Linked DNA regions of Homo sapiens: region 2 is linked to region 1. Evidence: fine-mapped expression QTL. A gene starts in region 1. The other region holds a variant in brackets. All regions are shown on one strand. Distances are from middle to middle.

Region 1 (4,384 bases):
CCCTGAGACCCATGACCCCAAATGACTCATGGGGGGATGTGTGGAGGGGCAGGGCTGCATTGGATGCTTTTCCAAAGTTCCCACACATTTTGAAAGCCTCTGCCTTACCCCTGACTTAACTCCAACTGTGGCTGCCCTCCCACACCTGGCCCAGGCTTTAGCCACTCTCCTGCCTTCCTAACTCTCCAGGCCATGAGATTTTCCCACAGGTCAAACTTGAAAGGGGTCCTGAATTCCCTTTATTAAAATATTCTGGAAAACTTCGTTTGACCTAGACCTTGGCACCCCACAATTCAACCACCTCTTTCGGAGGCCGGCTTGGAAAGCCACTCCACAGCAGCTGGACAAATCCTCACAATATCAAACTGGACGCCAAGCGTGCCTGCCAGTGTCCCCTCTATCTGGAGCGACCACCAGCCAGCACCCGCTACTTCCAAATCAAGTGGCCATACCTGGGTGCCCCGCTCCCAGACCGAGTCAGACCAGTCATTTCCTTTGACCACAGAGTGAAAATGGCCCGTCTCGCCCTGCTCCCACTTCCATCCAAATGGACTTTGTCTTTTGTGTCTGTTGTGTCACGGAAGTCCGGCTTCCCCAGGCCAGGCTCCTCCCCAGGGCCCTCCCCGGCCCCCTGGGGATCACATTCCCGCCTGGGACTCCTCCCGCCCGCCCTCGCGGGGAAACTCGGTGCAAGGCTCTGCAGACGCCTGCAGCTCCGGTGGGCTCAGTGCCCAGCCCGGGCCCAGCTCCTCCCACACCACCGCACCATGGCCGCCAGGTGGCGCTGCCGCCGATGGAAGGGGGGGTCCGGGCGGTCCCCAGACACCTTGTGCGGGTACCGAGGCACAGCAGCACAGGACTGCCCCTATGGAGGGGCTGCCTGGCAGGAGCAAGGGACGCTCCTATCTGTAGTGCTAAAAAAAAGGATAAACTCCTGTAAATGCAAGAATACGTCCTTGATTACCTCCTCCCACCCCCACAAATTGAAAGGTGACTCCTCCCTCACCTCAAGCTGCACGCTCCTCTCTTCACGCTCCGTTGACCTTCAAGACTGGATGGTTCCACCTCCAATTCCCTTAAGGCAGAGACATCCACGGACAGGCTGCAGTGAGGGACATCCAACCCAAGCTGTCCTCAACCCCCCACAGGGCTTGCTTGCCTCACCGGCCCACCTCCGAGCCTTCCAGTTAGGGGCTCTGCTTCTGCACCTGAGCCTGAGACCTGAGGAGCCTCCCAATCCAGGGCTGCTCTGTCCCGCGGGCTATGAACCAGAGGGAGAAACGGGAGCAGAGGGTTGGAGGGCAGGAGGCTCGACCAGGAGGGCGAGGCCGCAGCCCGAGGCTCGTGGTAGTCTGCCTTCCTGCGCCTCTGCGCTGCAACGGAGCTGCAATGCAAGACGCCTTCATTTCAATGTCCCGGGCTCCAATCCCGGGTTCTACTCCGTGAACTTGGCTAAGTCATGCAGCTTCTTGGGCCTCAATTTCCTTCTCTGGCAATCTCGTGGATCTCCGAGGTCCCCCAGTCTGGACTTGCGGGGGCTTCGGGGGACGGTCGGCCTCGCGGGTGTCACCTCCCGGCAGTAGGCAGAGCGCTTCCCTCCAAACGCCCTCAGCCCTCATCTCGGCCTGGAGAGGAAATGCTGCTCTCTATATGACCTCTTAGGGCTCACTGAGGGGCCTAGGCTGGGAGGGGCCCCAAAGCGACGCCTCAGACTGCTGGGGGGCGGGGGCGGACAGGAGCGCTGAATAATGAATGAGACTTAATTGGGCCCGCACTGCGCGACGGCGCGCTAAGCTTTGCAAACAGCGTGGGCGGCGGCGGCCGCCGCTGGACAAACAAACTATCTCCCGGCTCAGGTGGTGGGGCGGGGGCGGCAGCCATACAAGGGAGAGGGAAGGGGCTGGCCGCCGGGGCACCCGGGGCCGCAGCGCGCCCCCAGGTTTACTTCCCGAGGAACCCAGAAATGCGGGGCTGCGCTGGCGGCCCAGAGAGTGGGGGTCGGGAAGGGGCTCAGGGTTCGATCTCAGGAAGGGAGGAGTGGGGAGGGAGAGAAGCGGATTGTGCGGGGAGAGCCAGGGGCCCAAGGGCAATGTAAGCGCGAGGAAAAGCTGAAGAAACGAGTGGAGGGCAGAGGAGAGGGGAGAAGTGAGCGAGGAAAAAGCGCACCGGGGGAGGGGCGACGGGGTCGGGGGAGCGGGAGAAGAGCTGTTACCGGGAGGAAAGGGAAGAGCGATGGAGGAACAAGCGAAGGAAGGCGCAAGGGGCCGGGAGAAGAGGAATTGAAGAGTCAAGGAGAGGGATGGGAGGTGACCGGAATAAGAACGAGGGGGCGGCAGGGCGGGGGGAGGCGCCCCTGCCTCCGCCTCGCCCTGCAGCGCTCCCGGCCTAGCGCTCTCTCCAGCCGCCCGCACTCACTTTGTCACAATTACGGGGCCGTCACTCCGCCCGGATTGTTTTCCCCAAATTGTTGTTCTATAAACTGGTGCAGAGTGGGAGGTGGGGGGATCTGACAAACTGCAGCGAGAGGAAAGGGTCTGAGCTGTGGTGCGGGGCGCGGTGGTGCATTTACCCGCAAACTGGCCCCGCGTGGGCGGAGGAATCCAAAAAACCCACGCAGGAATTCTGGTTGCTGCCCCAGCTTCGTCGCTGACCCCGCTTTTAACTTTTTGGCTATTCTCAGCATCGGCTGCCTCGGTTTCCCCAGCAGAGCGTGACAAGGATCGGAGGCTGGGGTGGTGGAGGCGCTTGTAGGTGGGGTCCAAACCGTCCTGCCTGTCCCATTCTGTCTTGTTCTTTACTACCCGGGTCTCCCCGGCGGGGGATGGGTGGTCTATCCCAGCCCAGCGGTCCTCAGAGCGACCTCGAGTGCCTTCTTCCCCCGTGAGTGAGGCTTCTGCCCTCACCCGGTCTGGGCCATCTCCTACCCCGCCTGTGCCCTCCGACCCTCTGCCCTGCGCCGCTCGGTGTCCCAGCCTTTCAATTCGGCAAACATACGTTGCGCGCCCACTGAGTGCCAGCGCTGAGCCAGCCTCACCCCGCCGCCTCTCCCCCCCGCCACCCGCCCCTTCCCGGCCGGCCCGGCCTGTCGGCTCCGTGACAGCAGCCGCCGAAGCCCCGGCCCCGCGGGAGCGGCCAGAGAGGAGCCGCCGCATGGCTGGCTCCGACACTGGCCTCCCCGGCGGCTCCAGGGGCAACGAAGGGTGGCGGCCGCTGAAGCGAGACTGGAGCCTGCTGGGGGAGTTGGCAGGGCTGAGCGGGGGAGGGGGAGGCCCTGGGCGGGCTTCTCTCTGGTTCTCTAAGGCCTGTCGTTCTCATTCCGTCGCCCTCCGGTACCGCCCGGGTCCCGACCCCTCCTGGCTTCGCGAGCCTGGGACGTGGTAGGCTCCCCACGCCCCCTCCCCCAGCCCAGGTGATTTACACGCGGGCTCCGCGAAGCGGCCGCTTCCCAATCAGGAATATCGACCCCGGGCGGGGCCCCCGGGCCGCATCGATCCCTCTAAGGCTCGGGATTTAAAAATGTCAAATTTGCCTTTTCCAGGCGGGCGGAGGGGGCGGGGGCCAGGCGGAGGGAGGTTGGGAGGAGGGAGGGACAGCAGGGCATCGACCAGGCGTCTGTGCTCAGAATGTGAAGTGACCCGCGCGTGCCCGAGCCCTGACACGGTGTGACCATCCTTGGGTTAGCAATCACCTCTGGATGGGGGCAGGAAGAAAGCCCTCCTCCTTCTCCTACTCCAGTGTCCGTGGGGTATTCTGCTGGGCTGGTGTATTCTTAGAGAGAAGAGCCCCAAGAGGAACAAAGAGAGAGCCCCCCAAAATGTAGGAAGACAAATTTGGAAGATTCCTAAATGTGGAAATATGCAGACACAAAGGAGGGTACAAAGCCTGGGCGCCGTGACTCACACCTGTAATCCCAGTACTTTGGGATGCTGAGGTGGGTGGATCACCTGACATCAGGAGTTCAAGACCAGCCTGGTCAACATGGTAAACCCTGTCTCTACTAAAAATTAAAAAAAAAAAAAAAAAAAAGCCGGGTGGAGCCTGTAGTCCCAGGTGTTCAGGAGGCTGAGGCAGAAGAATCTCTTGAATCCAGGAGACGGAGATTGCAGTGAGCCAAGATCGAGCCACTGCACTCCAGCCTGGGAGACAGAGTGAGACCCCGAAAAAAAAAAAGAAGAGGACGTTTACAGAGATAAATATACAGAAGCTCCAGGAGATACCCTAGCCCCAAGGAACAACAAGACAAAGGGAAGGGGTCTTGCTGAACAAAACAGGGGGCCAGAGATCCAGAGTCAGCCCAGCTCTCTGCTCTGTAAACCCAGGAGGTTCAGGGCTGGGAGGAGGCCAGGTTCAACTTCTTGGTGTTTTTGAGAATGAGGATTGAGAG
Region 2 (4,384 bases), 60 kb before region 1:
CACTTTGGGAGGCCAAGGCAGGCGAATCACTTGAGGTCAGGATTTCAAGACCAGCCTGGCCAACATGGCAAAACCCTGTCTCTACTAAAAATACAAAAATTAGCCGGGCATGGTGGTAGGTGCTTGTAATCCCAGCTACTCGGGAGACTGAGGCAGGAGAATCGCTGGAGCCCAGGAGACGGAGGTTGCAGTGAGCCGAGATTGTGCCATTGCACTTCAGCCTGGGTGACAAGAGTGAGAGTCTGTCTCAAAAAAAAAAAAAAAAAGAAGAATACTATCATCTCCAAATTAGGTGTGGCCTTCGAAAAGCGGGCGTATCTCTGCTATCAGGTAGTAATGGCTAATACATTCAAGAACCTCAGCTTGAACAAAGTATTATGGCTGACATATTCCCAAATTATCCTTGATTTTAAAGTCTAATAACTAATAACTTTTTAGATATTAACTCATATAGCATTTTACAGTCTGTAACCTACCATTTAACACTGACATTGTTTTCATTCAATCAGTCGTCTGCTTTGTGTCAAACACTGTGCTAGCCAAGGAGTCCACAAACTCTGTCAAGGGCCACACAACAAACATTTTAGGCTTTGCTGGACATACGGTCTGTCACAATACTCAGCTCTGCTGTTGGCGGTGCAAAAGCTGCACTGACAATATGTTAATGAATGAGCATGGCTGTGTCCTAATTAAACTTTATTTACAAAAAGAGGCAGTAGGTCATTTTTGGCTTGGCAACCCCTGTCTTAGCCTATGGGGAGATAGCAATAAAACATTTTTTAAATTAAAATTTGAATAAATAAAATACACACAGAGCCTATCAGATCCAGATAAGTGCTACAGAGAAAATGAAGCAGGGTAAAGGCGATAGAGAGCCAGGGCCTCACCAATATGGTGACATTTCAGCCTGACCCCTGAAATAAGGAAGAGGAAAAGCCATGCTACCTGCATAGGAAAAGCATTCTAGGAGAGGTAACAGCAAGCACAAATGTTCTGAAGAAGAAACAACCTGGCATCTTAGAAAAACAGCAAGGATGCCGCTGTGGCTAAAGGAACGTGAGCAGTGGAGAGTCATAGGAAATCAGGCCAGAGGAGTAAACTGAAGCCAGACTTTGTACAACCTTTTAGTCCACTGTCACAACTTTAGCTTTTACTCTAAAATGGAAAACCACTGGAAGATCTTGAGCAAAGGAGTGACAACCTCATTTGACTTAATTTTAAGAGGATCATTCTGGAGGTCTGCTGAGAAAAGACTACACAAAGACAAGGACAGAAAGAGAGAACTCAATCAGAAGACTAATGCAACAATCCAGGAAAGAGAGGACAGCAGTTTGAATCTGAGTGGTAGCAGTAGAGAGGGTGGTCAGATTCAGTATGTATTCTCAAAGTAAAACAAGATGAAATGTGATATGTAGAGAGAGGCATCAAGGATGATTCCAAGGTTTTTGTCCCAAGTAAATGGAAGGATAGTCTATTTACTGAAATGGGGATGACCATGAAAGAGGCGTGGAGACACATATGAAGTGTGAGATGCCTATTATATCCACTATTACACATGCACATAGAGATGTTAAGTGGCCAGTGGGATACACAAGTTTGGTGTTAATATTATTTTACATTATGATTGTTCCCAGTATATGTTTGCTCTCTCCAACTGTGTTATAAAATCCTTAAGAATAAGAACGCCTCACTTTCACTTCATTCACAGGTGATAGTATCAAGACGAATTCTTACTTTTTTTTTTTAACCAAATCTGCCTTGATCTTGGAACTCTTATTTTATACACAATTTTAATAGGGTTATAGTTCTAGTTCCTGAATCCACCAAAAGATAGAAGTAGCAAATTTAAAATAGGGGGAAAAAAGCAGCTATCACTGACCGCTGACAAAGGAGTAAACAGAAAAGAAAGCATAAAAAGCTGACAAAAACTAGGCTGGGTGTGGTGGCTCACACCTGTAATCCCAGCACTTTGGAAGGCCAAGGTGGGAGGATTGCTTGAAGCCAGGAGTTCAAAATCAGAGTAGGCACCATAGTGAGACTCCATCTCTACAAAAAGTAAAAAAAAAATTAGTCAGGTATGGTGGTGCACATCTGCAGTCCCAGCTACTGGGGAGGCTGAAGTGGGAGGATCACTTGAGCTTGGGAGGTCAAGGCTACAGTAAGCTGTGATTGCACTGCTGCACTCCAGCCTAGGTAACAGAGCAAGAGACCCTGTCTTTAAAAAAAAAAAAAAAGTTTACAAAAACTAGAAAGATCTAGCATTCCAAGATTATTTATTATTTACTATAGGTATTATACAAACAACTGTACATATATGTCAGTATCCTCCCGAATTCAAGCTATCCTCCTGCCTCAGCCTCCCAAGTAGCTGGGATTACCAGCATGCACCACCATGACTAGCTAATTTTTGTATTTTTAGTATAGACAGGGTTTCACCATGTTGGCCAGGCTGGTCTTGAACTCCTGACCTCAAGTGATCCACCCGCCTCGGCCTCCCAAACCAAAGGCATTGTTCTGACAGAACAAAATTTTTCCAAATATCTTTAGTTACATTTAATGTAATTTTCAAATGTCATGTTTTAAAGTATTGTTATTTAAAATGGAAGAAACTGTATGCAAAAGAGTAAATGTCAATTATCTGAAAAATTTATATATGTGTTATCCTCACAGGTTTGTTAGAAGGCAGATGAAATTATATACA[C/T]GAAAGTCGTCTAATAAACATTTATTTGGACTCGCCCTGTACTAAAAATGGTAGACATTTACGAAAAAGTAAGTTATCATTCAAGCTCAAGTCCCTCCTTTTTTTGAGACAGTCTCGCTCTGTCGCCCAGGCTGGAGTTAAGTGGTGTGATCTCGGCTCACTGCAACCTCGGCTAACTGCAACCTCTACCTCCCGGGTTCAAGTGATTCTCCTGCCTCAGCCTCCCAAGTAGCTGGGATTACAGGCATGGGTCACCACGCCCAGCTAATTTTTGTATTTTTAGTAAAGACGGGGTTTTGCCACATTGGCCAGGCTGTGTTTTAAACTCCTGACCTCAGGTGATCCACCCAACTGAGCCTCCCAAAGTGCTGCAAATTCAGGCGTGAGCCACGGTGCCCAGCCCAAGCTCAAGTCTCTTTTTGAGAGATGGACATATGAACAATTAATTATAACACAATGTGATCAGTAAAATGAATACAGATGTTGAATTCAGACATCTGGGTTTAAATTTTGACACTGTGTCAAAATTTAAGTGTGTAATTTTAGGCATGTTACCAACATCTCTGGAAATTATTAAAAAGATTATATATAAATATGTAAAGCATCTAGCAGGGTAGACTGCACATAGAAAATGAATGGTAGCTAATTATAATCCTCATACACACATGGTACAATGAAATAATAATAATGGGTTAAACCAGGTGCCACACTTTTTCTGTAAAGAGCAAGATACCAAATATTTTAGGCTTTGCAAGCCATACAGTCTGTATTGCAACCACTCAAATCTGCTGCTGCAGTGTGAAAGCAGCCATAGACAATACAAAAAAAAAAAAATGAGCATGGTTGTGTTCCAACACAAGTTTTTTTCAGGGACACTGATATTTGAATTTAATATAATTTTCATGTGTCACAAAATATTCTCCTTTTTATTCTTTCAACCACTTAAAAGTATAAGAACCATTCTTAGCTTGCAGGCCATACAACAGCAGGCAGCAGGCCAGATCTGACCTGTCCGTGAACAGTAGTTTACCAACCCCTGGTACATAGGAATGTTGGGGATGAAGACAGTGATCAGAACAGATGACTCTGTTCTCTGTTCCCCTGGGTAAAACAAGGTTTGGCAGTTGGAGGGGCAAAGACAGCATACCTGTGGCTGCTCGACACATAACTATTCTCCCCTATTCTCTTTGGCTAATTTCTGCTCATCTTTCAAGTCTCTATTTAAATATGACTACTCTAAGCAGGGCACAGTGGCTCACGCCTATAATCCCAGCACTTTGGGAGGCCAAGGAAGGAGGATCACCTGAGGCCAGGAGCTGGAGATCAGCTTTGGCAACATAGCAAGACCCAGTCTTTACAAAAAATTAGCTGGGCATAGTGGCATGCACCTGTGGTCCCAGCTACTTGGGAGACTGAGGCGGAAGGATCGCTTCGGCCCAGGAGTTCAAGGCTGCAGTGAGCTAAGATCACACAACCACACCCCAGTCTAGGCAACAGAGCAAGATCTTATCTCTAAAAAAAAAAAAAATGAAAAAAAAAAAAAGTCTGTAACTCTAGAACCTGTACTCTTTCCCTCCCTACCCCACCTAAGACTAATCTGATCCTTTCACTAGAGGCTTCCAAAGGACCCTGACAATTTCTATCATAGCATTCACCACGTTAAATTGTAATTTCTGGTTTAAT

Which allele goes with the higher level. Alleles are on the strand shown, and positions count from the first base shown. SD is a standard deviation of normalised expression in the study named.
For the expression in pancreatic islets of the gene that starts at base 1,670 in region 1, C is the high allele of the variant in region 2 and T is the other (large effect, 0.85 SD a copy in PISA).

What was found. PIP is the estimated chance that this variant, and not a neighbour inherited with it, causes the effect.
Region 2: its variant is the best candidate, but not a certain one, in a credible set for the expression of DNAJC22 in pancreatic islets (PISA, PIP 0.68).

What each region holds. Positions count from the first base shown.
Region 1 is chr12:49,344,174-49,348,557 of GRCh38, reverse strand. It overlaps DNAJC22 (DnaJ heat shock protein family (Hsp40) member C22), which reads right to left and starts at 1,670. Exons shown (of 4, transcript NM_001304944.2): 1 at 1,007-1,670; 2 at 453-914. RefSeq lists silencers at 634-853, 2,886-3,005, 3,026-3,125, 3,156-3,345 and an enhancer at 28-971.
Region 2 is chr12:49,404,135-49,408,518 of GRCh38, reverse strand. All of the region lies in intron 2 of SPATS2 (spermatogenesis associated serine rich 2), which reads right to left. Among named protein-coding and RNA genes, the nearest start is that of SPATS2, 39 kb to the right of the region's middle. The variant C/T (reference allele first, on the strand shown) is at 2,702.